4 linked regions of the Homo sapiens genome follow. The protein of the gene in region 2 purifies or fractionates together with the protein of the main gene of each other region. This does not show direct contact. Each region holds a gene or a part of one and is shown on either strand. Other genes may lie near its edges.

Evidence for each region.
Region 1: the proteins of LIMK2 (region 2) and UBB purify together in Homo sapiens (affinity purification with mass spectrometry; 2 studies listed by BioGRID and IntAct, with this or other methods). This does not show direct contact.
Region 3: the proteins of LIMK2 (region 2) and TTC1 purify together in Homo sapiens (affinity purification with mass spectrometry; 4 studies listed by BioGRID and IntAct, with this or other methods). This does not show direct contact.
Region 4: the proteins of LIMK2 (region 2) and FKBP5 purify together in Homo sapiens (affinity purification with mass spectrometry; 2 studies listed by BioGRID and IntAct, with this or other methods). This does not show direct contact.

Annotation. Positions count from the first base shown.
Region 1 is NC_000017.11:16,376,766-16,383,249, reverse strand, and holds UBB (polyubiquitin-B precursor), read right to left. Parts: upstream 2,160-6,484; 5' UTR 2,066-2,159; intron 1,961-2,065; exon of another isoform or gene 1,571-1,960; intron 1,349-1,570; 5' UTR 1,343-1,348; coding exon 653-1,342; 3' UTR 510-652; downstream 1-509.
Region 2 is NC_000022.11:31,207,524-31,215,315, reverse strand, and holds the start of LIMK2 (LIM domain kinase 2), read right to left. Parts: upstream 3,019-7,792; 5' UTR 2,908-3,018; coding exon 2,892-2,907; intron 1-2,891. UniProt on the Homo sapiens protein: Serine/threonine-protein kinase that plays an essential role in the regulation of actin filament dynamics. Acts downstream of several Rho family GTPase signal transduction pathways.
Region 3 is NC_000005.10:160,012,120-160,019,154, reverse strand, and holds part of TTC1 (tetratricopeptide repeat protein 1), read right to left. Parts: intron 4,497-7,035; exon of another isoform or gene 124-4,496; intron 1-123.
Region 4 is NC_000006.12:35,636,916-35,643,915, forward strand, and holds part of FKBP5 (peptidyl-prolyl cis-trans isomerase FKBP5), read right to left. Parts: intron 5,929-7,000; 5' UTR 5,910-5,928; coding exon 5,805-5,909; intron 244-5,804; coding exon 99-243; intron 1-98. UniProt on the Homo sapiens protein: Immunophilin protein with PPIase and co-chaperone activities. Component of unligated steroid receptors heterocomplexes through interaction with heat-shock protein 90 (HSP90).

The sequences.
Region 1 (6,484 bases), on a different chromosome or scaffold from region 2:
ACCATCTTTTAAAAAGCCTGCATATCCAACTTTTTGAGATGTTGTCTTGCTCTGTCGCCAGGCTGGGGTGCAGTGGCACGATCTCGGCTCACTGCAACCTCTGCCTCCCAGGTTCAAGTGATTCTCCTGCCTCAGCCTCCCGAATAGCTGGGACTACAGGCAGGCGACACGACGCCCAGCTAATTTTTTTCTTTTAGTAGAGACAAGGTTTCACCATGTTGGCCAGGGTGGTCTCCATATCTTGACCTCGTGATCCGCCTGCCTCGGCCTCCCAACAGACTTTAAATTCGAGCTTCAGAAAGTTTGCCATTTACCCAGGATCCTAACTTGTAATGACTTAAACAGCAAAGAAGGCTCTTGCCCCTCAGCCCACCCAAGTGTATACCAAAGTCAAGTGACTTAACTTTGAGCACATTACCAATCTCAAAATTAAATCCCTAAACATTTTCACCAGTTTTAAGCGTACCCACACATCACTAGAGAATTTCATGACAAAACACCAAGTATGCTACCATGCAACGAAACCTTTATTAACATTTTGAACAGGTTCAGCTATTACTGAAACTTGTAATTTCTAAACTTAAGTTGGGGCAAATGGCTATAGTGCAGAGTAATGCCATCACTGGGCACTGCGAATGCCATGACTGAAGAATTAACAGCCACCCCTCAGGCGCAGGACCAGGTGCAGGGTCGACTCTTTCTGGATGTTGTAGTCAGAAAGAGTGCGGCCATCTTCCAGCTGCTTGCCTGCAAAGATGAGCCTCTGCTGGTCGGGGGGGATGCCTTCTTTATCTTGGATCTTGGCCTTCACATTTTCGATGGTGTCACTGGGCTCCACCTCCAGAGTGATGGTCTTGCCGGTCAGGGTCTTCACGAAGATCTGCATACCACCTCTCAGACGCAGGACCAGGTGCAGGGTCGACTCCTTCTGGATGTTGTAGTCAGAAAGAGTGCGGCCATCTTCCAGCTGCTTGCCTGCAAAGATGAGCCTCTGCTGGTCGGGAGGGATGCCTTCTTTATCCTGGATCTTGGCCTTCACATTTTCGATGGTGTCACTGGGCTCCACTTCCAGGGTGATGGTCTTGCCGGTCAGGGTCTTCACGAAGATCTGCATACCACCTCTCAGACGCAGGACCAGGTGCAGGGTCGACTCCTTCTGGATGTTGTAGTCAGAAAGAGTACGGCCATCTTCCAGCTGCTTGCCTGCAAAGATGAGCCTCTGCTGGTCGGGGGGAATGCCTTCCTTATCCTGGATCTTGGCCTTCACATTTTCGATGGTGTCACTGGGCTCCACCTCAAGGGTGATGGTCTTGCCGGTAAGGGTTTTCACGAAGATCTGCATTTTGACCTAGTTTAAAAGTAAAACATAAGCGTGTCACCTCAGGATCATTGTATTTCTTGCTTTTACACCTAATATTCTTCAAAATTAGCAACTATTCCTTCAAAATGCCTTAAATACGTTAATATTCCGCAAGCCTCCCCTCAATTTTACAAGGCTAAGTCACTTAATACGAAATTCGTCATTCAAGGTTTCAACGTCAACAGCGGAAAATCCAGAGCGCTCTCTTACCAAGCGTCCACAGCTTTCCCCACTAACTGTTCCGGATATTCAAACTCCCCCGACCGAACTCCAATCTGCCTCAAACCTAAGCACGGTGTTAGGCAAACTGAAAACAAAACCAAACCCACAAGACTCGCGAAATAAAAATCCCATTGAAACACAAGAAGGGGCACCTTTCTCACACTGGGATTCCAAAGTAAAGGCTTCCAGAAACCACACAAACTACCTCTTTTCCGCCTTCCCCGCGAAGTAAACTCGACAGAATCGCCGATCGGTTAGGCGTCCGTTAGTTTCCGTCAACGCGCGCGCGCGCCAACCGCCCTCGCCCCCCTCAGGTCAACAAGGCCCACTGTCCCGGAAAGGCCCAGCGCCGCGTCACCTCGCCCTCCCCTCCCCCACGCCCTCCCCTCAGCGGCCCACCCAACCCCAAGAAGCCTCCACCTTGACCTCACCCATTCCCCCCTCTCACACCCCCCCAAGGTCGTTACGGCTGCGGGCCAGTACCTGTTAGCGGATACCAGGATCCTGCCAATCACCAACCACGTCCACCCACAGGGACACAAACAAGCTCACCCAACAAAGCCAACCGCCCCTAAATGCTCCGGGCTGGCGGAGCGCAAATTTATGCAACGAGTGTTGCGTCACTTATCACCCCTCACGTAGACGCCGTCTCCGTGCGCCGCTGAAAGTAGTTCGCCGCGCCCAACCTCCCGAGAGGCAGTTTAGGCTTTTCAACTGAGCCCCAAATTCCTCATAGCCGTAAGAAAGGCTCCTAAAAAATTATTTCCCTTCTCCTCTATGCGCTTCTCTTCCTTCTTTAGGAAAATATAAGAAAATTATCAGGCGGATGAATTTGAGTTGAAGAAACCTTCCTCGAAAGCTCTGGAAACTTCCTTGCAGCGCCGGCACTGATTGGTTAGGCCTGCGAAGGCGAGGTCGGCGCTGATTGGTGGGGGACGCGGTGGCTCTGTTGTTGCTGGGCTCCACCTGGGGTGGCTTAGCGCCGAGGTTGCTAAGTAACTGAGCGCGCGTGCGCCGCACAGGCGCGCCGTCCTGAAAGAGGGTATTTCCGGCGGGAGAAGGAGGGGGGGTCTTTCCTTTTTTTTCTTGAGACGGAGTTTCGCTCTTGTTTCCCAGGCTGGAGTGCAATGGCGCGATCTCGGCTCATCGCAACCTCCGCCTCCCGGGTTCAAGCGATTCTCCTGCCTCAGCCTCCCAAGTAGCTGGGATTACAGGCATGCGCCACCACGTCCGGCTAATTTTTTGTATTTTTAGTAGAGACGGGGGTTTCACCATGTTTGTCAGGCTGGTCTCGAACTCCTGACCTCAGGTAATCCACCCGCCTCGGCCTGCCAAAGTGGGCCGCCGCGCCTCAGAAGCGGGACGGCGTGGCACCCGATATCGAGACACCTGATGGTGATTGTGAAGCACAATTCCCTCTCCCATGTTTTAAAAACGCGCGCCCCTGGCCGGGCGCGGAGGCTCACGCCTGTAATCCCAGCACTTTGGGAGGCCGAGGCGGGTGGATCATGAGGTCAGGGGTTCAAGACCAGCCTGGCCAAGGTGGTGAAACCCCGTCTCTACTAAAAATACAAAAAAATTAGCCGGGCGTGGTGGCGGGCGCCTGTAATCCCAGCTACTTGGGAGGCTGAGGCAGATAATTGCTTGAACCTAGGAGGCAGAGATTGCAGTGGGCCGAGAATGTGCCACTGCATTCCAGTCTGGCGACAGAGTGAGACTCTGTCTCAACAAACAGACAAACAAAAAACACGAGCCCCTCATACACTGGCCAGTTGTTTTTGCTTTTTTGTGACAAAGTCTGGCTGTGTCCCCAGGCTGGTGTGCAGTGGTGTGATCACCGTTCACTGCAGCCTTGACCTCCAGGGCTCAAGTTATCCTGCCACCTCAGCCTCCCAAGTGGCTGGGACCGTGGACCACGCCTGGCTTTTTAATTTTGTATTTATTTTTTGAGACGGAGTCTCACTCTGTCACCCAGGCTGAAGGCCAGTGGCGTGATGTGGCTCACTGCAACCTCCACCTCCCTGGTTCAAGCGATTCTCCTGCCTCAGCTTCCTGAGTAGCTGGGATTACAGGTGCGTGTCACCATGCCTGGCTAATTTTTGTATTTTTTAGTACAGATGGGGTTTCACCACGTTGGTCAGGCTGGTCTCGAACTCCTGACCTCAGGTGATCTGCCTGCCTCGGCCTCCCAAAGTGCTGGGATTACAGATGTGAGCCACTGTTCCTGGTCTAATTTTTTTTTGTTGTTAGATCAGAGTCTTGCTATGTTACCCAGGCTGTTACTGAACTCTTGGGCTCAGGAGATCCGCCTGCCTCGGGCTCCCAAAGTGCTAGGATTACAGGCATGAACCACCGTGCCTGGCGGACTAGCCGCTTTTTATTTTTCTTCGTGGTTATTGCAGGGTTGTGGAGCTTTAAATCATGCTTCTGTAGTCAGAGTGCTCTTAGTTGCATTGTCTTAATCCTCATCACGGCCCGAGAACAGTCTGTAAATCGGGAGTTCAGAGTGGGACCCTCTGCGGGGACCGGAAACCTGTTGCTGAAGCCGCTCACCACCAGGCCCAGAGAGGCGAGGCTGGAGCCCATGGTGACAGTGGCCGGGCTTCGCTCTGGCTCCAGCAATACCTGCAAATCCAGTTCTTCCCAGCTGTTTCTCCAAACTGGTAGGAAAAAAAAAAGTGCAGATTAGGGAGCCGAAACCCCACTTCAAAAACGGGAATTCACCTACAAGAAAGTAGCTGATCCTGCTCCCATTGACGTGCTTGTTGTGCAAGGGTGAGGTTAACCAGCTAGGACCAAGCAACGGGTTTCCCTACACCCTGGGTGTGGCCACTCGTCCTGCAAGGAGATAACCCAAGGAAGGTGAGTAAGGCAGATGTGTTTGGATCCTGGTGCCTGGCACAGTCACGGGGGTGGGGTGGAAGTAAACATGAAATTGGCTGTTTTTCACGTGATACCAACCTTCATAATGTAAGAAGTAGTCTAGAAATGTGTGTATTAATACAATTAAGTAAACATCTCTTAGAAAGGTCGCTAATTACTAAATTTCAACATACCTGAGCATAACGTTGAGAAGCTATGTCGACAAATGAGCTGGTATATGAGTTAACACCTAGACAGCTTTCAGTTAAATTAACTAAAACCGGGATCTACTGTCTACTGATGTGAATAAGCAGGAGATAGAAATAAACAGTTTAAGATAATTTTGGAAGTGATTTTGAACGACTTGGGAGGTAGTTTATAAAACGTTTATTTTATTATATAAAGTATGGATTTTCGTTTTTGTTAGCCTAACAGTGATTCTGAATTTGTTTCACCAACCAGCAGCTCCTCCTGAATCATACATGTTGATCGCAGATTGAGCTAGAAGGCAGATCTCATGACTGGTATAATGACTTCACTGGGAAGTTCTAGCAGTTGCCAGAACTGTAAGTTAGTTATACAGGCTCCTGGTTCAATGTTTTCCCGAAGTAGGTCATTTGGTAACCTAAGATTAGGAATTTGGTAATCTGGCACAATACTTGGCACTGTGCTCAATAAATGTTTGTTCAGTGACTAAAATGCAATCTTCTCTTTTGTTCAACTGGAGAAAAGAAACTTTGTGACAGCCTTAAAACACAAAGCAAAAACACAGTAGAGTACTGTATTTCATCTCCATAGGCAAATGCTATTTGCCTTGGCAGTTCCTTCAAAAGAAACAAAGGGGGATTGATTCTGAGATTCTAAGTGATTTTACTTGGCTAGATGCCTTTTAATAAAAATCTGTGAGAAAACTATAGTTCCAATTAAAAGTTCACAGTTGTTTTCTTGACATTATTTGGTGATATTTAAAGTGTGGAATTAGTCTCTGATTTGTCAATTCCTTTATATTTCACATTTGGCTATTTATTTCAATACAATTACATAATGAACTCCTAATTTATTACAAGCAAGTTAGAAACTTTGATATTGAATGCCCAAAGGAACACAGAGCAAAATCTGTACTGTTTTCATGTTAGGCCTCAAAAGTACAGAAATCTATCCATTAAAAAATAGCTAATTTGGGCAGATTGCAGTGGCTCACGCCTGTAATCCCAGCACTTTGGGAGGGTGAGGCAGATGGATCTCTTGAGCCCAGGAGTTCAAGACCAGCCTGGCCAACATGGCAAAACCTCATCTCTACTAAAAATACAAAAATTAGCCGGGTGTGGTGACGCACACCTGTGTTCCCAACTATTTGGGAGGCTGAGGCATGAGAATCCCTTGAACCCAGGAGGTGGAGGTTGCAGTGAGCTGAGATCACGCCACTGCGCTCCAGCCTGGGCAACAGAGTGAGACTCCATCTCAAATACAAACATACAAAAAATAGCTACTTTAAATGTTTTTAACATTTTTATTTATTTATTTATTATCTATTTTAGAGTATCTATTGCCCAGGCTGGAGTGCAGTGGTGCAATCATAGCTTACTTCAGCCTCCAACTCCTGGGCTCAAGCGATCCTCCTGTGTCAGCCTTCCAAGTAGGTGGGATTACACACACAAGTTGCTCTGCCTGGCTACAATATTTTTATCATGAAATATTACATAAATACATGAAAGATGGAGGTAATATAGCAAATACCATATAATCCCTGATTTGCTTAAGCACTTAAAAACCTTTATTTTTGGCCGGGCACAGTGGCTCAGCCTGTAATCTCAGCACTTTGGGAGGCCAGATCACCTGAGGACAGGAGGTGGATCACCTGAGGTCAGGGGTTCGAAACCAGCCTGGCCAACATGGCGAAACCCTGTCTCTACTAAAATACAAAATTAGCCAGGCATGGTGGTGCATGCCTGTAATCCCAGCTACTTGGGAAGCTGTGATAGGAGAATCGCTTGAACCCGGGAGGCGGAGGTTGCAGTGAGCCAAGATCGTGTCATTGCA
Region 2 (7,792 bases):
TGTCTCAGAACATGGTTTGAATGGAATAACAAGTGAAAGTTTAAGTCCCACTTCCTTCTCAGACTCCATAGTCAACTTCATTCTGCTTTTTGTGCTACAGAGAGGAGGAAGCACTAAACTTGAAGTTGGAAAATATGAACTCTGACCACCACTGCTCATTTAGCTATGGAACCTTGTCATTTCTGGGCCTGTCTCCTCATCTATAAAAAAGCCATACTTGGCTGGGCATGGTGGCTCACGCCTATAATCCTAGCATTTTGGGAGTCCAAGGCGGGTGGACTGCCTGAGCTCAGGAGTTTGAGACCAGCCTGGGCAACATGGTAAGACCCCGTCTCTAATAAAAATACAAAAAATTAGCTGGGCGTGGTAGCACTTGCCTGTAGTCCCAGCTACTCAGGAAGCTGAGGCAGAAGATTCACTTGAACCTGGGAGGTGGAGGGTACAGTGAGTCTGGATCGCGCCACTGTACTCCAGCATGGGCAACAGAGCAAGACTCTTCCTCCCCACCCCCTACAAAAAAATCAAAAAACCATATTGACCTCCCAGCTCCAAGGCTCAAAGGCACTACATGCCTTCCTACCCTAGGGCCTTTTTATGCTGTTTCCTCTGCCTGGAATGCTCTGTGAGCTTTTTTTGCCAGGCTAACTTTTACTTATCTCCAGGGGTCAGCATAAACTTGCATTTTTAAGAAAAGTATTCCCTTCAAAAAAAAAAAAAGTAGAGGATGGGCATGGTGGTTCATGCCTGTAATCCCAGCACTTTGGGAGGTTGAGACAGGAGGATGGCTTGAAACCACCGTGGGCAACATAGTGAGACCCTGTCTCTACCAAAACAGAAAAAAAAGTAGAGAAAACCCTCACCCCTGGTGCACTCTTACAGCACTTATCTCAATTGTTTACCTTAACTATTATAGCATTTATTGCAATTGTTACAATTATTTATTGTCCATCTCTAGGATTATTAAGCACCACAAAGCCAAGAACTATGTCACCACTGTACTCAGCATTTGGCTAAGTATATGACACAGAAGAATCCAACAAATATTCTTTGAATGAAAGAAAGAATGCATAAACTAATGCATCTAGAGGCTTTATGCCTCTAGACTATTGTACTGTGAAACCTTTCACAATTTTCTAAGAAACAGGGTTCAAGACAGGCAACCTATATTACACAGCTGTTAGAAAAAGTTACTGGAAATCGGCCGGGTGCGGTGGCTCACGCCTGTAATCCCAGCACTTTGGGAGGCCGAAGCGGGCGGATCACAAGGTCAGGAGTTCAAGACCAGCCTGGCCAATATGGTGAAACCCCATCTCTACTAAATATACCAAAAAAATTAGCCGGGCGTGGTGGCGGGCCCCTGTTGTCCCAGCTACTCGGGAGGCTGAGGTAGGAGAATCGCTTGAACCCGGGAGGCAGAGGTTGCAATGAGCCAAGATTGTGCCACTGCACCCCAGCCTGGGCGACAGAGCAAGACTCCATCTAAGAAAAAAAAAAAAAAGTTACTGGAAATCATTCGAGTTGAAGGACTCTGTAAGCTTAAAAAAAATCTTTTTTAAGAGACAAGGTTTTGTTTTTAAGAGATGAAGTCTCGCTATATTGCCCAAGCTGGTCTCAAACTCCTGGACTCAAGCGATCCTCCTGCCCTGCCCTCCCAAAGTGCTGGGATTACAGGCATGAGCCACCACGCCCAGCCTAAAAAAATTTGTTTTAGGCATTTCCACCCCTAGCTCTCTCCAGAAGTCTGTTATCACCAGTGAAGAGAAAATCCCATGCTCCCTTGCTGAGGAAGTGACCCACTGGTAGCCCAGTCCTTGCATTCAAGATGAAGGAAGTGACTGTCCACAGACGGAAAGCCAGGAAGCAGGGGGCAGATAGCCAGCCCCCCTCCACCTCAATACCCTCTTGCCGCCTCTCCAAAGCTTCTGGACGCTGACCCTGGTGGACCCAGAGGTGGGCCACCCACACAGGTGGCTGGGAAACATAGGAGACAGAAGGTTCCTACTGCTGGGGGAAAAGATGGGGAAGGCAGGAAGCTGCAGGGTGGTGTGTGAGGTGGCGGGGAGGTGACTGCAGGTGCAACTAACCCAACTCTGAAGCTACCCTTCACCCTTAGACAACTCTTCCTTCCAGGAGGTGTTTGGCCGAATCCCTCTAGTCTTTAGTCTAGAGAGGCCAAGGGAGCTTCCACAGGAGGACTCAGAACCCCAGGTGGCCTACTTTCGCCACCTGTAGCAGAGATCTTTGGGCCCCAAAAAGAATGGTCCGATCTCTCCTTACCCTTAGTCCTGTCCTAAACCTCAAGGGGCTCCATACTCCCTTATTTTCTGCAAAGAGCTCCCAGCCCCGGGGGACTCCCAGACACCAAGATGCCCGCGAGAAGCCTTGGGTCTTGGCAGGGAAGTCACATCCTCCATTTCCCTCAGAAAACCCAGAACCCGGGGTAACTCTCCTAATTGTCCTGAACCCTAGAGGATCCTGTACTCCTCAAATTCCACAGAGCTTCCACTATAAGAGAACCCCATGCTTTTCAACTTCCTTAAAAAGGGTTAATTTGGGGGTCTGCGGCCGCCAGGTCCCTCCAAAAAGCTGGATTCCTGGCAGACCCAGAATCTCTTCCTCCCCGGGACCTCAACTCGCGGGAAGCCTCCCAACCCGCCTGCCCCTCGGAGCCCTCTGTCTCCAGGATGCCCTGCCTCCCCATTCCCGGAGTCCCACCCTCCAAATGCCTGGGGAGCGCTGTGCCCACCCCGCCTCCCAGCTTTTCTGAGGAGCTCGGACCCACGAGGACCCAACCAGCCCGAAACCCCCGAGAGACAGCCGGTTTCCCTCAGGCGCCATGGAACCGGACTTCGGAGATAACAGCGGGACAGGGCGGAGCAGCCCTTCCTTACCCGCCAGCGCGGACATGGTCCCGGGAGCGCGGAAATGGGGAGGAGGAGGCGGGGGACACAGCAGCTCCCCTCAGTTCCCTACAACTCCCCTCAGCTCCTGCCGCCGCCGCCTCAGGCGCGGGAAGACCACAGCCCCAGGCGCGAACGGGATGCACCGCCTACGGCGCCCTGGGAGGACCAAACCACACCTGGCACAGGGGACTGCCCGCCGACGCCCCGCCCCGCCGCTCTCAGGCCTCGCTCCCGAGACGCGGCCCCGCCCCCTGGCTCTGGCTCGGGCTCTGCAGCGGCCCTGGCGCCCCCTAGTGCGAGCGGCGTCCCCTCGAGGTGCTCCCGCCGGTAAGGTTGATTCTGCGGGGGCCGGAAGTCTCAACACGGATGACAGTCCGCACCCATCTAGTCGCCCTCATTTACAGATAGGGAAAGTTAAGGATCAGAGGCTAAGTTCGACTACATTGAAATGGCTTCGCTCATTAGGAGGAGAGCCGGGATGGGAGCCCAGGCCTGCTAACTGCCAGTTCAGAGCTCTTTCCAGTAGTGTTTGGAATCAGGAATATTACAATGGAGGAGCCAGGTCTATCCCACAAACAGCTTTGAGGATGGACTTTTCTTAGAAGCTTCTAGCTCAGAGAAACCACTTCTCTGCGCCACTATGAGTAAGCTGACAGTAAATAATCTCTAAGTCAAAGACAGTTGGAGGCGACCAACCAGCATTCCAGGAGCAGATCCTCAGCCAGGCCAATTAGGTTTAGCGCAGGACGCTGGAGCTTGTGCGCCGCATTGGAAGACGAGCACTCCCCTGCAGGAACATGGGCCTACCATTCCCAGGTCTTCCAACCTTTCAAAACATGCCAAAAATCCAGATATTTAGGTGAAATTTGCCACTTTTAAAAAATGTTGATAGCATCAAAAAGTTCTTAAAATGCCATGTAGACCAAATGAAACACACCTGGCCACTAGATTTGCCCTGTGGGCTGCCAGTTTACAATCTTCTATGAGGAGGAGGGATTACAGGACTAAGAGTTAGGACAGCTGACTGGGTTATGGCAGCTGCTAGCTGGCTGAGTAGCTTTGAGAACCACTTCCGCTCATTAGGTTTGGAAGGAGATTGGGGTCCTCTGTGTGATTAAGATATTAATACATCATCAGCCAGGCCAGCTGGTCCCTGATGACCCACCCTCCCATCAGATTCTCTCACGCTGGGTCTTTCACAATTGTCATTTCCTTACATCAGATTTAGATCACAGGAAACATGTCCAAATGACCAGAAAGAGGATGGAGCCCAGGGAAATGGATTCTGTCCCCTCCACCCCCACCCCTGACCAAAGACAAAGTTCAACCCAGCTGCCTCTGGTCCCAGCAGTTGGGTAAGCAAAGGCAAAGGCAAAGACAAAGGCGAGCACAATTCTCTTCCTTCCTGCTCTAATTCAAACCGGATGCCGGTCAGATTTTTCTCTTCTGGGTGTGGCAGGTGGCTCACGATGTCCTGAGTGTGCACAAAGTGCTGGGGAGGAGGGCTCTGTCCCATTTCCGTTAATTCCTGGGAACTCTTTTCAGTACTCAGTTTTGTAGTTTCTGAGGAAATCATTATAGTAAACACAAGATTGTGTATTGAATTAAAGTGACAGGAATCCAGAGACTCTCCTGACAAGCTGCCTCATGGCTAGCAAACAGGGGACAGGGACTTTCCCCATCCTTCCTACAGAAAGATGTAACACTGTATTTTCCCAGGCAACAAAGCACTGGCATCCTGGGAACCAAAACCTCCTGGGTGTCTTCCCTCTCCCTCCGTTCCACACCAAGGCACCCAGGTCTATCTCTTCTCCCTCCTCATTCTCTCTCACATTCCACTTCCTCCTACCTCCAGCCTCATGGTCTTCACCAGCAGGGAGCTGGGGAATAGCCAAGTCCCCCAAGTTCCTCCCAGGGAAGTTCAGGCGACTCTGAGAAACACAAGTTGAAAATGTAATGGAAGGGAATAGCTTTCTATAGAAATGCTATAGCCAAGAGATATATTTTTAATATGGACCCAAAGAACATTCCAGAAATCACTTGTGAACTCAAGGGGGACTTCTGGAGGGTAGAGAAAGCCTGGGCAGGGAGTAGACCAACTGAGTTTCAATAGCACCCAGGTTACCTGTCCACAGTTTGTTTCACTGGCCATAGCTTGGTCAGTCCCTAGGGCCAGATCCTGCCAGCCGCCTCACAGTCAACTCTCTGAGCCTAGGATCCTGAAACCTGGACCTTGAAAAACAACTCAAGGTTCTGCCCTCTTGAAGGTACTGGTCCACTGGTACCCAACCAGACTTGCCCAGTGTCACTTCCACTTGCTTCAAACTGAGCCAGTCTCTGCCCTCCCTGAATCATCCTACCCAAAACTGACTGTGTTAATCTTCCAAAAGTATGTTTCTGGACCTGTCATCTCTCTGTTCAAAACCCTTCAACAGCACCCCACTGCCTACAAAATAAAAGCCAAACCAGTCCTCATGAGCTGACTACATCTCACCCTGCGGACTTGTCTCCCTATTCCCTTCACTCCAGGACTCTGCTTTTTCCTGAGCACATCCTGCCTTGCGCCACCTGCCATTCCTACAACAACCAGCTCTCCAGGTTCTCTGTAATTTTGTGCCCCACTCTGCCCAGAGTGCAGTCTTGTTTCTCAACTCTAAATGATATAGTGGCATCTGTAACATCACAAAGTAGGACTACCAGACATTAAGTGCCTCCAGGTAAGACGCACCAAGTATATACTATCACCTATGACGTAGTCTTACAAAACAAAAATAATAAGCTTGAATCTGGTCAAGCTTCTAGATCTAACAACCAACTTACAGGAAATACATGGAGAAGAGGAGCTTAATAACATTTCCATGATGCAAATAGCAAAAATGATGCTGTGGGAAATGCAACAGGACAAATAACCTAGTTTCTTTAACAGATAAACTGCAGAGTAGAAAAAATTTCATAGACAGGCCAGGCAAGGTGGCTCACCCCTGTAATCCTAGCACTTTGGGAGGCTGAGGCGGGTGGATCATGAGGTCAGGAGCTTGAGACCATCCTGGCTGACATGGTGAAACCCCGTCTGTACTAAAAATACAAAAAAAATTAGCCGGGCGTGGTGGCGGGCACCTGTAGTCTCAGCTACTTGGGAGGCTGAGGCAGGAGAATTGTGTGAACCCAGGAGGTGGAGCTTGCAGTTAGCCGAGATCCCGCCACTGCACTTCAGCCTGGGCAACAGAGCGAGACTCTGTCACACAAACACACACACAAAAAAACAAAAAATTAGCCAGGCATGATGGCGGGCGCCTGTAGTCCCAGCTACCAAGGAGGCTGAGGCATGAGAATCACTTGAACCCGGGAGACGGGGGCTGTAGTGAGCTGGGATCGCATCACTGCACTCCAGTCTGGGCGGCAAGTGAAACTCTGTCTCAAAAAAAAAAAAAAAAAAAATTCAGAGACAAATAATAGCAATGTATGAAACTGATTTGGATCTCAATTGAAACTACACAAGTTATGAGACAACTAGGGAAATCTGAACAATGTGATTGGATATGATGATTTTAAGAAATTTTTTAAAGGTATTTTGCTTTTTTTTTTTTTTTGAGATGGAGTCTTGCTCTGTCGCCCCGACTGGAGTGCACTGGTGCGATCTCGGCTCACTGCAACCTCTGCCTCCCGGGTTCAAGCGATTCTCCTGCCTCAGTCTCCCGAGTTGCTGAGACTACAGGCGCCTACCGCTACGCCTGGCTAATTTTTTGTATTTTAGTAGAGACGGGGTTTCACTATGTTGCCCAGGTTGGTCTCAAACTCCTGAGCTCTGGCAATCCGCCCGCCTCACCCTCCCAAAGTGCTAGGATCACAGGTGTGTGCCATCGTGCCCGGCATATTTTGCTTGTTTTTAAAATACTTGAGATGCATATCGAAATACTTAATAAATGACATGACTGGGGTTTGTTTCCGAATAGTTCAGACAGTGGGAGAGGAACAGCGTGCGGGAGGTATAGATGCAACAAGACTGATCTGAGTTGATAGTTACTGGAGTTGGGTTATGGCTACATGGAGGCTTTATTGTCCTGTTCTACTACTGTTTTTTTTTTTTTTTCCCCATCGAAAACAAAAACCTAAGGCCGGGCATGGTGGCTTAAACCTGTAATTCCAACACTTTGGGAGGCTGAGGTGGGAGAACCTACTGAGACCGGGAGTTCCAGGCTGCAGTAAGCTGTGATCACACCACTGCACTCTAGCCAGGGCACCCGAGTAAGACCCTGTTTCTAAAAGGGTCTGTTGCCCTGGCTGGAATGCACTAGCATGATCACAACTCACTGCAGCCTTGACCTCCCAGGCTCAGGTGATCTTCCCACCTCAGCCTCCCTCCCGGGTAGCTGGGACCACAAGCATGCACCACTGTGCCTGGCTAATATTTTTTATTTTTGTAGAGATGGAGTCTCCCTGTGTTGCCCAGGCTGGTCTCAAACTCTTGGCCTCAAGCGATCCTCCCACCTCAGCCTCACAAAGTGCTGGGGTTTGTAGGTGTAAGCCACCATGCCTGGCCTAAAATTAAAATCTTTCAAAAAAAAAAAAAAAACCTGGTCTTTTCTCATTGGGCTTATGAGCTCCTGAAGTTCCCTCACCTTTGCATTCCCCACTGTATCTTGGTACTATTCAATTTGATAACTGTTAGATCAAAATCTAAGAGGAAGAAAAAAAGCTCTTTTCAGAGGAATTACTTGTAGCTCTGGCATGTTGGGAAGGCTGAGGCTGGGCCAGATTTGTAACCTCAGCAACATCTTCCATCTCACACTACACCCTGCTACTAAGGAACCTTAGGGAGGGACACACCTTCTGCTCGAGAGAGAGGACTTGGCTGACAGCCCACCTGCCCTGTTACTAAACAGATGGAG
Region 3 (7,035 bases), on a different chromosome or scaffold from region 2:
GTAAATGAATACCATTTGCAAACCACTAGTGAAAGGGAGCAAACCCATTGAAATGACTAAATCTGCATTTTGGCTTACAAATAAAAAATGTTTGTTTGCAGGAAAGAATTAAATCACCAGAACCTGGATAAGTTCAAAGTTCCTTCATCTTCTTCATATTAATAAAGGCCACACCATCCATCCAGTAGCTGAAGACAAGGAATCATTCTAACGTCTCACTCCATCCCGCCAATCGAATCCACTGCAATGTGTGGTCTGCTTTACCTCTGAAATATATCCCAAAATCATACACTTCTCTTCAGATCCACAGTTCAAGCTACTATCATCTTCACTGGGCTACTGCATTAGAGCCTAATTGGGCTCAAATGTTCTATTCATGTCCCTCCTCCATCCTCATACCCCTCCATTCTCTGTATAAGAACTGAATTCTCTTATTAAAATGTAAATAACTTCCGTCTCTCCCTGGCTTAAAATTATCCATCTGTTTCCTTCTGCACTTGGAAAAAACTTCAAGTTCTTTACTACGGCTTAGGAACTATTCCATAATCAGACCCTTGCCTACTATCAGCCCACTCTCTTCCTTAATCATCATGCTTCAGCCATCGGCTCTTCCATTCCTTGAACATGCCAAAACACCAAACTTGTTGTTACTTTAGGGCTTTATTCAACTGCTCTCTTTGTCTGCAATGCTTCCCTCTCAGACGGTCACACATTTGGCTGCTCCCAGTGCCACCCTCCCCTAAGTCTCTGTTGAGAGGCCACCTCTCCAGAGAGGCTTTCCTGACCAGCCAATCTAAAGCAGTCCTCTCCACCTGTCTTAGTCAGGTTGCTATAACAAAATAACAGACTCAGTAATTTATAAATAATAGAAATTTATTTTGCACAGCTCTAGGGGCTGGAAATTCCAAGATCAAGGCACCAGCAGATTTCGCGTCTGGTAAGGGGCTTGTTCTTTGCTTCAATATGGTGCCTTCTTTCTGCATCCTCACTTTGTGGAAGGGGAGTAGAAGGGCCCAACAGGTTCCCTCAAGTCTTTTATTGGTATACTTTATAAGGATACTAATTCTTCTAATCACCTTCTAAAGGCTCCACCTCTTAATACTACACATTGAGGATTAAGTTCAACATGAATTTTGGAGGAAAACATTCAAACCATAGCACCATCCTTCCAACCCAACCCATCCTTCATGTTAACATTTTGTCCTAATTCTCCAATGAGAGAACAGAAACCCTGTCTTGTTCACCACTGTATCCCTCAGGGCCTCAAACAATGTCTAGTGGGTGGAAGAAATGTAAATATTACTTGAATAAATGTGAGAAAAAAATTTCTGTAACTTATAAGGCCAATTATTGGCTCTCATGGGGGAGAAAAAGATGCTATTCATTCAACAGCTATTTAATGAAGGAAGATTGTGCAAAACCTGTGACAGTGGTCCTCAAGCCTCAGCATGTGCATATGAATTACCTAGGAAATTTACACATGAGACCTAAGAAACTGCACTGTGACAAGCAGTCCATAAAAGGCGATTTTCTTATGGAATCAATACTAGCATTCTGCAGTATGTGCCATAGGTCCTAATACTATAAACACTTGCTATGGTCTGAATGTGTCCCTCCAAAATTCATGTTGAAATAATCCCCATTGTGTTGGTATTAAGAGGTGCGTCCTTTTGGGATGTGATTAAGTCATAAGGGTTCCAACCTCATGAATGGATTAGTGTCCTAATAAAAGAGGTTGAAGGGAGCTGCCCTGCCCCTGCTGCCATGTAGGGACACAAATGGTGCCATCTGTAAGGAAGAGGCCCTCACCAGACACTAAAATTGCTGGCACCTTGATCTTGGACTTCTCAGCCTCCAGAATTATGAGCAATAAATTTCTATTATTTATAAGTTATCCAGTCTAAGGTATTTTGTTATAGCAGCTCCAACACACTAAGATAGAATTTTTGTATCATAATGTTATTATTGCAATTCTCTTCTGCTGCTACATTTGTCCTTCACCTTAGCCAAGCCTCTCAGAACCAGTTATTTGCTTCACATACCTAGTACATCTCAAATGTTAGCTAAAATTCCATTCCTGTGGGTAGTTATATCTACATTTAAGCTTTCACAAATAGTTAAGATTTACTGCTGAAATAAACACACGAATACACTATACTCTCTGAGAGCTTTTCCTGTTTTTACCAAATCTTAACTGCTTTCCTCCTCAATTATTCTTGATTTATGAGTCCTGCTGAGAAGTGACACTACACTTGAGCGTGAATTATCTTCCCAGCCACAGGACAAGTGAAGTTAGCTTGATTAACAGACTTTGGCTACTATTATTTGGTTGTGTCCAACAAGAAACCTTTAATACTACATAGACCCTGTACGGAATAGCACTTCTTTCCCAAATCATCAGGGGTCAGCTTCATGTGCTTTTGTGGTAGGGCACACAGTTTGGTTGTAAAGTAATCAATTTTTATTTATTTATATTCTTAAAATGGAATAATGTAATACAGGCTTACTGAAAAAAAAAGCAAATATTACAAAATTGCATTACATATAAATTAAAATTCCCTAATAATCATACCTCTCAAAGTTACTTACTGCTTATACTTTGGTGTATATCCTTCAAATTTGTATGTATAAACATATTTTCACATAGCCTTAAAAGAAATCATCACTGTTGTATAACCTGATTAATTAATTTGACATTATATTACAGGCAGCTTCCCAGGTCAATACCTACGATTCATCTTTTTAAAAAAATTTTTTAAATTATTTATTTATTTATTGAGACAGAGTCTCATTCTGTCACCCAGGCTGGAGTGCAGTGGCGTGATCTCGGCTCTCTGCAACCTCCGCCTCCTAGGTTCAAGCAATTCTCGTGCCTCAGCCTTCTAAGTAGCTGGGACTATAGGTGTGCACCGCCATACCTGGCTAATTTTTGTATTTTTAGTAGAGATGGGGTTTCACCATGTTGGCCAGGCTGGTCTTGAATTCCTGGTCTTGAGTGGTCTGCCCACCTTGGCCTCCCAAAGTGCTGGGATTATAGGCATGAGCCACTGCACCCGGCCAAGATTTACCTTTAACAACTGCATTGTATACTACATAAATATAACAACAAAATTTAAGTAATACTCTGGGAAGAACACATTTTTCTCTCCTACTATACCCTCCCAATAGGTCTGACACCAGATGAGAGTGTTTTCCACACTAAACAATTCTCCAATGGACACCAACGGAGTGTCCTATAATTCAATTCAGTTCTGTCACTATCTCCAGGTAGACAGTGTCTGATCCCACAGGTTAAGAGTTTAGTCTCATAAGCCTGGCCCCACTTCAGACACTAATCACAAGTCCCAGGTTGTGACCTATGATTCCGACTGAATGGTTAGCACAGGGTTCTTACCACCCTCTCTGTGGGTTCAATAATTTGCTAGAATGGCTCACAGAACTCTGGGAAACACTTTACTTACACTTAGTAGTTTATTACAAAGGACATTATGAATGATATAGAACAGCCAGGTGAAGAGACACACAGGGAAAGGTAGAGGGAGAAGGGGTGCAGAGCTGCCACGCCCTCTCTGGGTGCTACCCTCTTAACACTTCCATGTGCTCATCAACCTGGAAGCTCATCAGATTTCTAGTTCAAGAGTTTTTATAGGCCAGGCGCAGCAGCTCACACCTGTAATCCTAGCACTGTGGGAAGCTGAGATGGGAATATTGCTTGAGTCCAGGAGTTCGAGACCAGCCTGGGCAACATAGTAAGACTTCATTTCAAACACAAAAAAATTTAGCAAGGTGTGGTGGAAGGCGCCTGTGGTCCCAGCCACTTGGGACATTGATGTAGGAGGATTGCTTGAGCCCAGGAGGTTGAAGCCTCCAGTGAACTATGATCGCACCTCTGCACTCCAGCCTGGGCAACAGAGCGAGACTTGGCTCAAAACACAAGAAGAAAAAAGCTTTAATGGAGCTTAATCTCCAGCACTTGCCCTCCTCCTTTCCTGGATTTTGGTAGGTGGTGCCAAAAGTTCCAACCCTCTAAAACTCTAATCACTTAGTCTTTTTGGTGACTGGCCCCATCCTTCCTTAGGCTATAGATAGGCCAGATCCTAAAAGTTATCTCATTAGGATGAACTCAGGTGTTATCAAAAGGGGTACATTAAGAATAACAAAAAAATACACTACACTATCAGAAAATTCCAAGGGTTCTAGTGGCTCTGTAACAGGAACCAGGGACAAAGACCAAATAAATTTACTATACTACAAATACCCTGTTTAACATTGTCTAGCTTTCCAAAATTATGAATGATGCTGCAACACATCTATGTATATACATTTGTGTATATTTCTAATAATTTCCTTGAAATAAATGGCTACAAGAGAATCAGCGTTAATGCTGTCATGTCCAATATGGTACTTACTAGCCACATGTGACGATTTTAAAATTATTTATTTATTCATTTTGAGACAAGGTCTCACTCTGTTGCACAGGCTGGGGTGCAGTGGCGTGATCATGGCTCACTGCAGCCTTGACTTCCCAGGCTCCAGGGATCCTCCCACCTCAGCCTCCTGAGTGGTGGGGCTACAGGCTTGTGCCACACGTGATTATTTTTATTTTTAAAGGCTTTTTAAAAAATTTTAATTAAAAAAAAATTTTTTTTTTTTTGGAAAGACAGGGTCTCACTATGTTGCCCAGGCTGGTCTCAAACTCCTGGGCTCAAGTGATCCTCCAGCCTCAGCCTCCCAAGTGCTGGGATTATAGGAATGAGCCACTATGCCTGGCCCATGTGACTATTTATTTATTTTCTGAGACGGAGTTTTGCTCTTGTCTCCCAGGCTGGAGTGCAATGGCCCAATCTCGGCTCACTGCAACCTCGACCTCCTGGGTTCAAGCAATTCTCCTGCCTCATCCTCCTGAGTAGTTGCGATTACAGGAGCCCGCCACCAGGCCTGGCTAATTTTTTAATTTTTGGTAGAGATGGGGTTTCACTATGTTGGCCAGGCTGGTCTCGGGTCGAACTCCTGACCTTAGGTGATCTGCCTGCCTCAGCCTCCCAGAGTGCTGGGATTATAGGTGTGAGCCATCCCGTATGACTATTTAAATTAATTACAATAAAATTCAGTTCCTCAGCCGTAATAGCCACATTTCAAGTGCTCAATAGCCTGATGTAGTCAGCAGCTACCATACTGCATGGTGCAGGATGTAGAACATTCCTATCCTTGTAGAAGAGTCTATTGATAGCCCTATCTAAAGAAATGGTCACATAAAAATTTGGTATCTGCATCCCATGAAGTGACATAACAATTTAAATTCTCAATATTAGTATATGAGTTCCAACATCCTCTCCTTGTCAACATCAGATCAATATTCTGATCTGATAGATGAGACATAATGTTTTAGTTAGTATTTTTTTTTTTTTTTTTGAGACAGAGTCTTGCTCTGTCACCCAGGCTGGAGTGCAGAGGCCTGATCTCAGCTCACTATAACCTCCATCTCCCAGGTTCAAGCGATTCTCCTGCCGCAGCCTCCCAAGTAGCTGGGATTACAGGCGCACACCACCACGTCCAGTTAATTTTTGTATTTTTAGTAGAGATGGGGTTCCATCATGTTGGTCAGGCTGGTCTCGAATTCCTGACCTCATGATCCGCCCGCCTCAGCCTCCCAAAGTGCTAGGATTACAGGCATGAGCCACCACGCCCAGCCTGTACTTTTCATCATTATTAATGAGGCTGAGTCTTTTCACATTTTTTGGCCATTTTTTTTTTTTAGTCATTGTTGAACTATCTGAACTTTATTTTAAAAGATTCAAATATAACACTATCCTGTTTCTGATGAGCTATTAAAGCCAAACCATATATGTAGAAGACATTTCTTCAATCTGTTTCGCTGGCTTCTTGAAAATTTTGGAAAGATATTTATCAAAATAGCATACAAACACCTAATAAGAGTAGTACCACAGTTAGCTGAAGGCAATCTGCACTCTTATAGGTTGTTTCCTTAAAGTAGAGTCAGTGGCTTACATTTCTCTAAATAATAAGACTAGCACTGCAGTATGTTACTGTTATGAGATATTCTTACAAATTTTCAAATTAGCTATGAAAACACTTAGACTGATATATAAATGAATAGAAAATATTTATGTTTTAAACATGAATACTACTGTATGATTATGTTTATATGAATGTCTGGAACAGGAAAAAACCACCTATGGGACAGGAATCAGAAGAGTGGTTAACCAGAGACTGGCAGGGTTGGGAAAGGAATGACTGATAAAGCACACAAATGGAGTTTCTGACATGATGGAAATGTTCTCTATCTTGATAGAAACGTGAACTATGCAGGTGTATACAATTGTCAAACTCACTGCATTCTACACATGAGAACTGATATACAGTTTCACTAAATTATATCTCAATTTTTAAAAGGAGGAAAAAAGTGAAAAAAAGTATTGTTCTACTTAGAATATTAAACTTACAGGCAATAAAAATAATTATCCTCACTGGGTGTGGTGGTTCACGCCTGTAATCCCAGCACTTTGGGAGGCCAAAGTGGGAGGACTGCTTGAGCCCAGGAGTTGGAGACCAGCCTTGGCAACATGGTGAGACACTGTCTCTACCAAAAAACCCACAAAAATTAGCCAGGCAGGGTGGTGCAAGCCTGTTGTCCCAGGTGCTCAGGAGGCTGAGGTGGGAGGATCCACTTGAGCCCAGGAGGTTGAAACTGCAGTGAGCCGTGATCACATCACTGCACTCCAGCCTGGATGACACAGTGAGATCCTGTCTTAAAAAAAAAAAAAATCATAAAAGTATTTATAGAACTTAAAGTATGATTTTCTGGCCTAGGAGACACAAAAAAAGTTTTACTAAATTAGAGGTAGGGATCAGACTTTGTGACACCTTGAGCCAAACCATTCAACTGTCAAATCCAGAGGGCACTAGAAAATTAATATAATTTCAGGGCAAAATATATTAAGGTATCAGAAAAGCACTACTAACTTTTTAACATAGATGCATAATCAGTGTTTCTAAAAAGCCTGAAACCTGTTA
Region 4 (7,000 bases), on a different chromosome or scaffold from region 2:
ATTTCTTTACTTTTAGAAAGGATAGAATCCTCTGCTCCTATATATTACAAATAGTAATAAAGCTAAGTAAAACACAACTCAAAAAAATACCCTCTTACCTTTGCCAAGACTAAAGACAAATGGTTCATTTCTATCATGACTGGAATCAAACTTCTTTCCATTTGACAATTTTCCTTTGTAATGGACATAAACTTTGTCTCCAATCATCGGCGTTTCCTCACCATTCCCCACTCTTTTGACAATCTAGAAAAGACAAACATTAAGAAAAAGGAGGTCAAACTTTTTACTTGTAATCAGAGAATAAAAAGGTCACACAGTCCATCCCAAGACATCCAGGCAGATATGCAAATATACTATTATCCATTCTTTCTAATGCCTCCCTTCATTCCTCACAATAACTCATTGTTAGAAAACTGTCCTTTACCAACTTGTCTTTTATGTTATATCTACTTTTATTGCTAATCGCACTATTTATTCCTTCAAAGAATTAACCAATAAATCCTGTTCATTGGTTTAATGCCCTATATTTTGACAGTAAACTCTTTTTTTTTTTTTTTTTTTTTTTTGAGACGGAGTCTTGCCCTGTCGCCCAGGCTGGAGTGCAATGGCACGATCTCGGCTCACTGCAACCTCTGCCTCCCAGGTTGAAGCAATTCTCCTGCCTCAGCCTCCCGAGTAGCTGGGATTACAGGCGTGCGCCTCCGTGCTCAGCTAATTTTTGTATTTTTAGTAGAGATGGGGTTTCACCATGTTGGCCAGGCTGGTCTCGAACTCCTGACCTCGTGATCCACCCGCCTCAGCCTCCCAAAGTGCTGGGATTACAAGCATGAGCCACCGCGCCCGACACTAAACTCTCTAACACAGGCTTGTGAGCTAGTCCATATACACACGGACTTAGACCAGAAAGAATGGTGGACTTTTAAAATATTCAAAAAGAAGCTTAAGCAAAGCTTCAAAGGTGTAATTTTATTTCCCTCCTTTGCTAAAAACATTAGCTCCTGACTAGATTCTGCTTGTTTATTTTCAGAAAGCCCAATTTCCTGGTAAAACAGGTTACATTTCCTATTATTTGAAACATAGTCTATCTGTAAAAAACATGAGTATCATTGCACTGCTTGATATGATACTGAATAACTTGTTTTCTAGTAAAGTATTTAACTACTGTAAAATCCAGTGTATTTATTTTGTTCTTGGCAGAGCAAGCTGCTAATGTATTTGGTCAGTTCTGGGAAAAGAAAATCAAACCCAGGTGTGTGATGGTGTAATTTGTTAATTTGTAATCTATGCCAAATTAATCATTTTTGGTAGATAACAGAGGATGGTAGCTAACATCTGATGAACATCTTTTTGGGGAAGGAGTTTGCTTTGAGTTTTATTTAAATAATTCGATTATTTGCTCCTAAATTCTTTTTTTACAAGTATACCGTCCACCTAACATAAATATCACATAAACACTGTGAACTTAAATTCCACAGCTTTCTTAACTCAAAAGCCCAAACATCTTTATTTTATTTTTTGAGACAGGGTCTTGCTCTTTTACCCAGGCTAGAGTGCATGCGGTGGTACAATCATAGCTCACTGTAGCCTCTATCACTCAGCTCAAGTGATCATCCCACCTCAGCCTCCCGAGTAGCAGAGACTACAGGCACATGCCACCACGCCTGGCAAATTTTTTTATTTTTAGTAGAGATGAGATCTTGCTACATTGCCCAGGCTGGTTTGGAACTCCTGAGTTCCAATGATTCTCCCGCCTCAGCCTCCTAAAGTGCTGAGATTACTGGTATAAGCTATCGCACCCAGCCCCAAATATTCTTTAAAGGCAAAGAAACACTACTGCCCTTCTAGGACTTCAAAAGAAAAAAAAAGTCTCAAAACATTAATCTAAAAGATATTACACAATATTCTACAAGTGCTCATGTTCACGAACTGCATGTGGTATTTGGGAGGCTATGCTCAACTGTAAGCCTCACGTGGAAGGAATCTGCATTTCTAGGACTATAAACAGTAACTGGGCATGTGGGATGAATGGCTACCAGAGAGTCAGAGAGCCATCCACACCAGCAAGTGGTACTATGGTATCACTTCAGGCTTCCCTAGCAAGATGAATTTGTACCTAAATCTAGAGTTGCCTTAAGAACACAATCTAGGTTCTATTCATTTTTAAAATATAAATCCATCTTTTATCTTCCTCAGATAGTTACTGAATTTCCAAACCAGCACTGGTTCTTTTTTTAAAAATACGTAATAGTTAATAAGATAGATTACTATAGGACAGGCACTATGCTAAGTGCTTCACCTAATCCTAATAACTCTATGAGGTTGATGGCATTATTATTCTAATTTTACAAACAGGAACTTAATCACAGAGAGGTTAACTAAATTGCCCTAGCTTGCACAGTTACTAGACCTATTTAAATCTTAACCAAAAGCCTCATGGTGAAATCCGAGGCTCTAGACAATGATAAATGATATAATTTAAAGGGCTTCAAATCTCAAATGTTTCTTAATAAGCCTAAAAATCTTGCAATTAGATTTACTCCCTAGAACAGAACAGGGTCTGAGGCAAGTTGGGGATCATGTTCTCTGGGCATGGGCACTCTGAAAAGATGAAAGGGTAAGTCGTAAACAGAGGCAGGGAGATGCTGAGGACAGCCTGCAAAGTCTCCACTGTTTCTAGAAGCTTCCTGGAATTTAGGATGAGTAACTATAGCTACAAGGTTGAGAAGCCTTCTAAAAAAAGACAATAGGATGTAAATCTATAGCATAAAGCCCTTATTCTATAGCTGCAAGTCCCCAAAATTTGACTTAGCACATAATAGCAATTCACATATATTCAGAAGAGATCCAGGCACAGAAGGCTTTCACATAAGCAAAGTTATACAAAACAAAAATTCTTACTTGCTACTGCTGGCACAAGAGATATTAAAACTCAGCATCCTGGTAATATTCAGAATGCATCAGATAATCTTTTCAGGAAAAACAAAACTTAACTATACAAAACTTACATGTGTTAACAATGGTGTAGGAGAAATAACTATTTAATGTGACTAAAGCCACTTAACCTTTCTCAGATTCAGTTTATTCACTTATAAGATGGAAGAATCAAGAGATGCTCTGATTGTCTCACCACATTGTTGTAAGAAACAAAACAAAAGAAATGCACGTGAAAATGATTAACTATAGAGTGAAGAAACACACACAGTCATGCATCGCTTAAGGACAGGGATATGTTCTGAGAAATGTGTTCTTAGATGATTTCATCCTTATGTGAACATCGCAGAGTGTACTTACACAAACCTAGATGGCCTGGCCTACTTGTACACACCCACGTTAGGTGGTTTGGCCTACTGCTCCAAGGCTACAAACCTGTACATTGTGTTACTGCACTGAATACTGCAGGCAATTGTAAAACAGTGGTATTTGTGTATCTAAGCATATCTCAACATAGAAAAAGGTACAGTAATAAAAGGTATACAAGAAAAAAAATGGTACACCTATACAGAACACTTACCATGAATGGAACTTGCAGGACTGGAAGTTGTTCTGGATGAGTCAGCGAGTGAGCAGTGAGTGAACATGAAGGCCTAGGATATTACCATACACTACCGTAGACTTTATAAACACTGGACACCTAGACTACATTTATTTTAAAATTTTTCTTCTTTCTTTAATAATAAATCAATCTTAGCTTACTATAACATTTTTACTGTGTAAACTTTTTTTTTAGCTTTGACTCTTGTAATGACACTTAGAACACAAACACTGTACAGCTGTACAAAAATATTTTCTTTCTTTATATCCTTATTCTATAAGCATTTTTCTGTTTTTTAAATTTTTTATTCTTTTACTTTTTAAACTTTTTTTTGTTTAAAACTAAGACACAAACACATACATAAACCTAGGCCTACAGAGGGTCAGGATCATCAGTATCACTGTCTTCCACCAACACATCTTGTCCCACTGGAAGGTCTTCAGGACAGTAACATGCATGGAGCTGCTGTCTCCTATAATAACAATGCCTTCTTCTTGAATACCTCCTGAGGGACCTGCCCAAGGCTGTTTTTTGTTTGTTCATTTGTTTTTGAGACAGGATCTCACTCTCACCCAGGCTAGAATGCAGTGGTATGATCATAGTTCACTGCAGCTTGGAACTCCCAGGCTTACATGATCCTCCTGCCTCAGTCTCCTGAGTAGTAGAAACTACAGGTACATGCCACTATGCCTGGCTAATTTTTTTAATTTTTTTTCTACAGATAGGGGTCTTACTATGTTGCCCAGGCTGGTCTTGAACTCCTGGCCTCAAGTGATCCTCTTGCTTTGGCCTCCCAGGGTGCTGGGATTACAGGCATGAGCCACTGCACTCAGCCAAGGGTGTTTTACAGTTAACTTTTTAAAAAATAAGAAGCACACTCTAAAATAATGATAGAAAGTATAGTAAACACATAAACCAGTAATATAAACATTTATTATCAAGTATTATGTACTATACATAACTGTGACTGCAGTGCAGTAGGTTTGTTTACACCCACATCACCACAAACACATAATACACTGTACTACCCATGCTACAACAGCTATGGCACCACTAGGCCATAGGAACTTTTCGGCCCCATTATAATCTTATGGGACCACTGCTGAAGGTGCAGTCTGTCACTGACTGAAATGTCATTATATGGTGAATGACTGTATAGTGCTTTAATAAGTAGGAAAGCTAATTCAAAAGTAAGATATATTCTAAGAGGAAATCGCAAAAGATATCTTCACTGTACACAGGAACAATATTTATATATAAAAATAAACCCCTTTGGGCCGGGCACGGTGGCTCATGCCTGTAATCCCAACACTTTGCGAGGCCAAGGCAGGCGGATCACCTGAGGTCAGGAGTTCAAGACCAGCCTGGCCAACATGGTGAAACCCTGTCTCTACAAAAATTAGCGAGGCATGGTAGCAGGCGCCTGTAATCCCAGCTACTCGGGAGGCTGAGGCAGAATTGCTTGAATCCAGGAGGCGGAGGTTGCAGTGAGCTGAGATCATACCACTGCACTCTAGCCCAGGCAACAGAGGGAGACTCTGTCTCAAAATAAAATAAAATAAAATAAAATAAAATAAAATAAAATAAAATAAAACCCCTTTGAATTTTTCAAGTTAGCTTTTCTTTCCTTAAAAAGTCTTCAAAATTGTCATTAGCTAGCTTTAGTGTACTAAAAGGATACATTAAAATAGTAACCTATTTGTATACTCTGAGAATAGGGAAATATAGCCCTTTAGAGTGAGATATAACTTGGACCTGAACCCCAGGTAAATCTGCATTACTAAGATATATGATATTAGGCAAGTTAATTTACCTAGCCCAGTCTCAATTTCAACATCTATAATCTGGGATTAAAAATTAAAATCTCTAGCTGGGCACAGTGGCTCGTGCCTATAATCCCAGCTACTCAGAAGGCTGAGGTGGGAGGATTGCTTGAGGCCAGGATTTCAAGACTTGCCTGAGCAACATAATGAGATGCCCTCTCTCAAAAATTTAATTAATTAATTTAAAAAGAAAATCCCAGCTACTCAGGAAGCTGAGATGGGAAGATCACTTGAACCCAGGAGCTCAAGACCAGCCTGGGCAACATAACGAGACTCAACTCTTAAAAAAAACCTTGAAGTTATGAAGACAAAATGAGAATCTAGCTCTAGTGTTTGGCACTTAGTAACCATCAATAAACATTATCCACCCCAGCCCCCCTCAGAAAGAGATGCTATAATCTTTCCAGACAGCAGGTTTCCTTGTATGTCACTCAGCTTTGTGGCCTCACCTTTAATACTCCCCTGTCTTTTTTGGAGGTAATATCCTCTCCCTGCTCAGCAACAGTGGCTGTGGGGCTTTCTTCATTGTTCTTGGCACCTTCATCAGTAGTCATTGTCTTTTAAGTAGAGAACCTGGTAAGAAGAAAAATATTTTAGCTGGGAAAAATATCACTTCTTTATGAATCTTGAATGTCCCTGGGAACTGAGCTCTACCTAACCTAAGATTTACTTAGGGCCAATAAGCTTAGATACTGAAAATGAAAACAAAGGCATTTGCTATGAGCATGTATTGATGTCATCAGGCATGTAAATAAAACATCATCCAATTCTTTAATTTCCCATCTAGCTCTGGTCTCAAAACAGAGAACAGTACAAGTCAAGTTGGGTAGTGATTACATTCCTTAACATAACATGGTGAGAAGCAGTCCCTTCACAACTTTGAAAACATCCTTTTTCTACAGCCATATTCTTGACAGAGGATTAAGACCTTATCAGTTCTTAATAAAAGAAGTGACAATATATCAATCACAGTGAGACACAGAACAGGATTTAGAATCCAACAGACCCAAGTCTGGGTCCTAGCTGCAGCTCTTGACATTTCCAGTTTCCTTAATCTTGCTGAGCCTTCATTTTTCATCTGCAAAATGGACACAGTACACTATTCATAGTTACAGTGAGATAACATTTCTTAAAAGATTAGCATAGATTGGTAACTTAAACATATTTAACCATTTATCATCATTATTGGGCCTTCTGTAGGGTCATTTTTCATCTCCTGCCCAAAATACCTACAGAATGTTCTTCCATGTGGCATTCAAGGCCCTTCACAATCTGGCCCTAATCTATCTTTGAGTTCTAGCTGCCATTATTTTATTTTACTTTCTTTCATGCAGCTCATGCTCCAGCCAAACTAGGCCAATTCCACCTCTACAACAAACCCAGTGCTTTCCCATAGTCATTCTTCTGGTCACTCCCTTTCTTGTTTCCAAAACATCCACCTCTCTCAAATCCTACTTCTGTCATACCAACCTTGACCCTCTATTTGTAGGCCATTTTGCCCTTTTACGTACTTCCTTAGCTCTTCTCTCGATTTGTTGTCTGTAAGAGATTCATAAGACTATGCGCCTGTTAGGTTTAAAAGATCCTTCAGAGCAAGGTCCATGCTTTGTTCATATTTAGATTCCCTAGAATGCCTCTACCTTTG